Linked DNA regions of Homo sapiens. The protein of the gene in region 1 purifies or fractionates together with the protein of each later gene. This does not show direct contact. Each region holds a gene or a part of one and is shown in the gene's direction. Other genes may lie near its edges. The genes, in order: ABCA5 and STXBP5.

Region 1 (3,656 bases):
ATTGAACTATATAGTTTGTATGTCATCTTTTTCACCATTCAGAAACAGTGCTTCTGAATTTGTGATTTAAAGGAATTGTAATAGAATAGTTTTATTTTTAAGTTATCTTTAAGTTTATGCCATCTTCTTAAATAAGTACGTAATGTTCCAATCTAAATAAAAAACTAATTCATAACTAATGCATAGAAAAGATACATAAAGCAATGTGAAAGTTTCTTGCTTCTCCTTTTTAATTTCTAAAAAAGCCACTTTGAATGGAAGTTGTCATCCGTAAAAGCTGAAGTGTAAGCACTAGGAAATCTCAATATAGAGATTTGAGGAAAGTTATATCCACTAGGTGGCAGTCATTGATCATAATAAGTGAAATGAGCCCTTGTTCTAGTACATGATTTTAGGCTTAGGTAATTAGGTATGTGAAATTACATTTCTTTAATTTAAAGTAAAATTCAGAAGGTTTTAGTTATTATAATTAAAGGAAGACTGTGTGTAGAATCTTACGTAATAGTCTGATTCTTTGACTCTGTGGCTAGAATGACAGTTATCTATGGAGGTGGTAGAATTAAGCCATACCTTTTCCTTCATCACTCTTGGAACATATAAATTTTTTGTCATCTTCCTTGCAAAGGGCACATTTAATTTTGTTCTTGAATAAAATATTTTATTGGGTATTTGTTTTTATTGGTAAACTTTAGTGAATCTCTTCTATAAAATTGTAAGTAGATCAGTGTGTAGATTTATTTAGTAACTTACCTCATTGACTTTGGAACATGGTAGGATATGAATAAACTCTTTCAAGGGTTAAATTAAGAATTGTAAGTGCAGTGCGCCTATTTCTTTTTAATAAGAACCAGAATTTCATTTTTGATAGAGTTAAAGGCATGGCTAATATTTTCTTAGAAATACTTCCTTGTACAACCCATGTATTGGCTCAAGGTATAAAATAGTGTAAATAATGCTAGTTGACATTACATTTCAACCAAATGAAAGTATTAACTTCATAAAACAAATATATTGAGAGTGTGATTATTGTATTAGACAACAACAACAGCAATGACAGAAGGATTTGGTACTGAATTACTTTAAATAAGCAAAACCTTTCAGTGGCATTATTCATTCTTTAATGTAGGCAAAATTTAATGAACTTTTAGCTTTATTGTGTAATAAGACATCTGTGATTTTAGGCTCTAGCAGTGGATTTAAAAGTGTTCTTTCTCGGTACAAAGTACGTGGCTGATATTTTCCCCCATTGCTGGGGGCAGTTGCTATACACTTTCCTAAAGTATATATAATGTTCACATAAATACCCAGGGACCTCTTTTTTGGGATGTGCTTTTGTAATTATGTGTAACCTTGAATACTTAAGTTTAGTAAAAGCAACAAAATTATATCTATAGTTTACTAAGGCAGTCACGAAAAAGCATAGTTTTTTTTAGAACCTGACCATCCTAAGAAAGTTATGTCATCTGAAGATAGAGCATGACTAATGAAGAAAATTACCTGCTTTTGCACGTAGATTTGGTAACTTTCACTTTACATTTGTGAATGTGTAATTGGTGCAAAGTAAATTTTTTTTCCTGCAAAGTGAAAGTTGAGTAGTCACAATCATGTTATTTATTTTGTTCATTTAGTTACTTTGCTTTTAATGTATATGAATACATGCTCTTGTAAACAATTTTAAAAGACATTCAAATTTTTTTTTAGTTTTTATATACTCAGAATATATTTTGGTTGTTAAATTAAATTATGTTCCCTTTTTCACAGTAACAAAATCTGACTCAGGAGAAATATAACTTAATTCTTAGGAAAACAAGGGTAAGTGAGCTGGAAAGCAAAGGAGGCAAAAAGTGAAATATATTTATTTACAGTGTACAGTTCATGTTTATGAACATACTAATTTTAAAATGTCTTAAATTACTGATCTCAAAACTTTTTTCTATGTCAGTACAGATAAATAAATAAATATACATATTAGGCAAAAGCAACATCACCAACCTTATATTTCCCATTCATGGTCAAATTTTCAAAGGAAAGTAAAAGCTGAGCTTTACTGAGTGAGTGTTTACTGACTAATAAGGCAAGAAAAAACATGATGAGTGTACTTTACATCTTACTTTTGTGGGCTCTTAATTTTTTTTTCTAGTTTGTTTTCAGTAAAGACAGTGGGTTTTCTTTAAAATAATTTTTTTCTTTTAAATTTGCACAAATTATCTTAGGTCAGTATTTTGGTTTTAATCATTAAAACATTTTTAGAGTAATGTAATTTAACAAATATTTTAAGTGATTATGTTTCCAGAAATGGATTCTTTGGAGAGAACTCGGATGACTATCAGTTTTGGCCCTGTAAGATCGTGGAGATCTGTAAGATAGATACTTATATAACTTACATAAAATATATATAATATATTACTTATATAACTTATATAACTAGCTATTATTTTATATAACTAACTATAATATGACAAATCCTTTGCTAGTAGTACTAACAACGTTTTATAGGAGCACAATTAATTTTACTTAGGATAAGTGTTGTTATTATTGTTTTTATTGTTGTTCTGTTAGTTACTCAAAACTTCATTCTAATTGTGCCCTGAGTTTGTTAAAATACCATACTGTATTTTTGTGTAACATGTAAATAGGCATTAATTTTTGAGAAATAGAAATGTTTATCCTTAATGTATTTTTAATTTGCTAACATTGATTTTTTATTTTCTTTCCTGAAATAGCTTATTTCCTAAAATGAAAGAATTTATTCTCAGATGAATAATTTTTATATCAGCTATTCTTATCAGGTAAAAGTTTAATTATTTTTTATTTATAATATATGTAAGCAATTCTCAATGCTGCTCTTTAAGAAAAATAAATATGATTATATTAATAATAAGCTTTAAGAGTTGAAAATTTAAGACAAGTCATTTTGTATACTGAAGTGAATTCTTTGTTATTTAGTGCTGATAATTGAATAATGAGTAGCTCATATTAAAAATGATGCAAAAACCTGGCACTAAAATTGTTAGTAATTTTTTTTAAGTATCTGAGGCTAGTTTTCAAGTGCAGAAGGAACATTGACAATTACTTTGTTTTAATTTACATTCAGATTTTAAACATAAACTAGGTATGTTTATAGATCTTTTTGTCTTGAATGTATTTTTTTGTAAATAGAAAGCAATCACTTTAACTTACACATTATCACATATAACAGGTTCAGTTACTCTCAGATATTTAACACTACTTACATATTTATCACTTTCCTTAGAATTTTTGAATGAATTGATTCATACAAACACTTAGGCAATATTTTAAACTTAATGAACAGATTCTTCCCAAGTGCCTAAACAACTCTTGCAAATTAAATTACCGTTTTAAATTAAAAAATCAAGTTCTCAAGAATTTCAAGCATCATTTGGTGTTTCTTTCGTTTTTGAGATAGGGTCTCACTTTGCTGCCTAGGCTGGAGTACAGTGGCACAATCCCGGCTCACTGCAGCCTCAAGCTCCCAGGCTCAGGTGATCCTCCCACCTCAGCCTCCTGAGTAGCTGGTACTACAGGCATGCACCACTGCACTCAGCTAATTTTCGTATTTTTTGTAGAGATGGGGTTTTGCCATGTTGCCCAGGCTGGTCTCAAACTCCTGGGCTTAAGGGATCCTCCTGCCTTGG
Region 2 (3,833 bases), on another chromosome or scaffold:
GGTTCCTGAGAAGGAGTGAGGGAACCTGCATTTGAGTTAAACATGTGCCAGGCATTTTACTTACATTTTAAAGTCATTATTTCAAAGAAGTACTATGTGATACATACAAATATATATATATGTATAGATAGATAGATAGATAATGCCTCAAGTTTTATTTGTCACTTAATGTGCTATCTTCAAAATGCTAATAGAAGTTTTAGGATGGACTATTGAACTGTGTTACTAAGTGAAGTCTACTATACATAGTAAATACTACGCAGTCATACCTTTATAAACGACAAAATCTGACCAGGCTAGATCTGAATCTGTTAATTTCTGAGACGGTGTGTCTGAAGTGCTCTTGCCCAAATATCTAGATAGTTATGACCAGAATGTTTTTTGGCTTCAATTGTTAGATATTTTTATTCCTGAACTCAGTGATCAAGACCATCTAGTTTAGGGTTGTGTGAAGACGGGAATGAAGTTATTTTGTCAGTGTGGGCCCTGAGTGTTCAGCAAAACTCTGTAGTGACGAGACTAGTACAGCGTTGGATCTAGATGCATTCTTTGGAACTGAAAGCAGTTTCTTTTTTTTCCCAACAAGATAATTTCATAACTGGACTAGAAGAAGGAAAGTAAAGTTGAATTAAATCAGCTATTTTTCCCTTATTTTGCTTTTCTGTAAAATGAGTTTAGGTTTTATTGTTTTCCCAGTGTGGTCTCGACATTCTTTTGGTAAATAACCTCTTTTCCTTGTAACATCCAATCTGGCCCTTTTATAATTTAGTATAATTATAAGTGAGTACCACCAGCAAGGCTGATTTTATAAAACCAGATTCTTAGACAACACTTTTACCCTAATGCATTTGTGTAATTAGCAAGTTGGCACAAAAGGTGTAAAGCGTTAGGCCTAGTGTGAATTGCCAATTAAAATCAAGGATCAGGTGGCCAAAATTGTCACTTGTATATAACTTTTGGTGTACTTTCTATAGTTAAATATTATGTGAATAAAAGTGAACCTGTAATTATAGTTTGCAATTATACTCTAAAGTTTTTTTTTAGAACCTCCTTACTAAGAATGAAGTATGGAAAACTGTTTACTAAATTACCTTCTACTTTGCCTTTTTATGAGATTTCTATGGACATTCCAGAGTGCTAAATTGGCTTGCTTGCCAGTAATACCACCTAGTCATTCCTTCTGTTGGGTTTAAGTAGCAGATGAGCTTATGAGCTTTATTTATTATGGTTCTGATTTATAGAAAATGACTAAGCCCTTTTTATTTTATCTCATTTTCCATATATGTGCTTTCAGGTATATGTTAGTGTCTCTTTCTTTGTTATTTTTGAAACTGGACACCTAAATTCCGAATCTCCACATTTGGTTAACGTGCAGATTTACTACAAGTGTGTATATTTTGACTTGGATCTTTTGTATATTTTCCTATTGTAATTGGTTTCTTTTGATCCTTTATTCTCTTCTTGTATTAGACTCTTGTAGTCTGTAACACAGTTATCCTAAAAGATATCATTAGAGCAGAAAATAGACTTCTAGATAAAGTATTTTCCTTGCAGATTGAAAAGTAGGCGATGTTTTCAGAAGTAAGATTAGGCTATTACAATTCCAAATGTGTATGTAATTTGACTGATGAATATCTTCCTAAATGTTAGAAGACTTTACTAAATTGATTTATCTACTCTGGGTTAAAACCAAAAAATCAAAGAAGAAAGATATATCTGATAGCTAATGTTTGTAGACAAGGATTAGTGAAAAATCTTAATCCTTTAATAATACATAACAAATTATGAGGCAAAATAAATTAAATGTATTTACTACATTAATGTATAGCAAATGACATATGATATAAATATGCTGAATGCTAAACCTTCTTGGCTTCTGGAGAGAATATGAGATTGAAGAATGAAGGTATTTTTAATAATGTTACTGTCTTTATCTAGACTTCTGATTTACTACTAAAATTTCAAATTGCTTCATACTTTAATCATGGGTTACCCTGATCTTATTTTTAAAGTAAATTTTTTTTCTAAACACAATGAGGTCATTATATATATGAATATTTCAAGGACTGAGCAGAAAAATGGAATTTCAGGTTTACTGAACTTGTGTAAAAATTTGAGGTTTAAAAATGAATTGTCAAATTATTATCGAAGAACCTCATTCATTGTCTTCTTGACTGGTGGAAAATACAGTGAAATAGACAATCTCTGTTTTGATGAGGCATGGATTGTCTTTTAATGCAGAGTAATGTTGCTGGAGACAGGCTTACAAAGTGATTTTTTTACCTTACAGTTGATTTAACAAGCACTTGAGTGTCAGACAACATTAGATTATAAATTGTGGCCTGAATTCTGGTTCTTCGCTTTCCACTAAATAATTACATGTCCTTGAATTAGTTTTTTTTTTCCTTACTATAAAAATGAAGGTGCAGTATTAAATGATTTCTTCAAGGAAGAATTTTATGATTTCAAGTAGCTATGTATTCTAGAGGAGTAATACAAAAGAAATGAAAATGTGATCCTTCCTTCAAAAAGTTTCCAGTTCTAACCAAAGGACTGGAACTAAATAAGCAGTTGAAATTTGAGAATTATTTGGGGCTCTACTGACATTACACAAAGTCAGGTTACATGTAAATTTGTTGCATTTGATGAACATTTCTATACATTGGTAGATAAGTATTCAGAATGACAGGGAGGAAGGAGTGGGAAAATTATTCTAGGCAAGGAAAACAGTATGGGCAAAAGCATGGAAAAGGGAATTATGCGAGTTTGGAGGAATACTAATGAGGCTAGTTGGAATAATTGAGTTAGCAGGAGAAATAAGGAGGCTGTTGAGGGTCTGCAATTTTAACCTGAGGTATCTGCATGATATTCAGTTAGGAATCATAGTTATGTAATAGGAGATGCTGACAGGAAGAAAGCATGATTTTTTAGCATGATTAGTGGAGTAGTGGTATAGGTGAAAAGAATGGACCAAGTGAACTTCACAGAAAATTATTAATCCATATAGGTAGTAAAGTGAATCCAAAACAGGGGTGGCAGAATGGGAATTGGAGAAGGGCTTGACTTGTTTGTATAAAATCTTAGGGAGTAACTAAAGATGATAAGGTTTTGCAAGTAAAGTAATGAGGCAATTACAAGCGAAGTGAAAAACTTGGCAAAGAAGTGGCAGAGAAATGTTGAGTTTGAAATTATGTTATCTTTAACTTTTATTGTATTATCATTTTGGGAGAGTAGCCTAGACTTCTTATTTTAGTGTGAGAATTTGATATACTTTCACTGTTTTGTTTTGGTTTTTTTTGGCTGGTCCTTGGTGATTTCCAGAATTTTGTTACTGAATTTATATTTAAGGTCATTAGTAGCTGTTTGGCATTGTCCATTTATTTTCTGTCAGTGTTTCTCAAAGTGGTAGCTTTTTGGGCAGAATAATTCTGTGGGTTTGTCCAGCACATTGCAGGATATTTAATATCCCCGTCTCCCACCTACTAAATGCCCATGTTGCCTCCCCTGTCAGTGTGGCAACCCAGACCCTCCAACACACTTCCAGGTGCCCCTGGTTGAGAACCACTGCATTTAGCCCAAGTTCTTCACCAGTTAAATAAGAATAATAACCCTACCTAGCTTGTGAGGTTATTGTCACGATTAAATCTAATAAAATGTGTGTGTGTAGCTTTTACGATCATGAAGGGATATTGTGGTGGATACATGATTATTACATTATTATTATAATACATGATTATTATTAATATGAGAGTTTTTCTGTGGCTTTAATTTTCAGGTCCTTCATTTCTCTCAGCGAATACTGAGTGGCAACTGTGTAGGAAGGACTTCATTTC

Evidence for each region.
Region 2: the proteins of ABCA5 (region 1) and STXBP5 fractionate together in Homo sapiens (co-fractionation; one large-scale study listed by BioGRID). This does not show direct contact.

What each region holds. Positions count from the first base shown.
Region 1 is NC_000017.11:69,243,662-69,247,317, reverse strand, and holds the end of ABCA5 (cholesterol transporter ABCA5), read left to right. Parts: 3' UTR 1-3,007; downstream 3,008-3,656. UniProt on the Homo sapiens protein: Cholesterol efflux transporter in macrophages that is responsible for APOAI/high-density lipoproteins (HDL) formation at the plasma membrane under high cholesterol levels and participates in reverse cholesterol transport.
Region 2 is NC_000006.12:147,207,107-147,210,939, forward strand, and holds part of STXBP5 (syntaxin-binding protein 5), read left to right. Parts: intron 1-3,833. UniProt on the Homo sapiens protein: Plays a regulatory role in calcium-dependent exocytosis and neurotransmitter release. Inhibits membrane fusion between transport vesicles and the plasma membrane.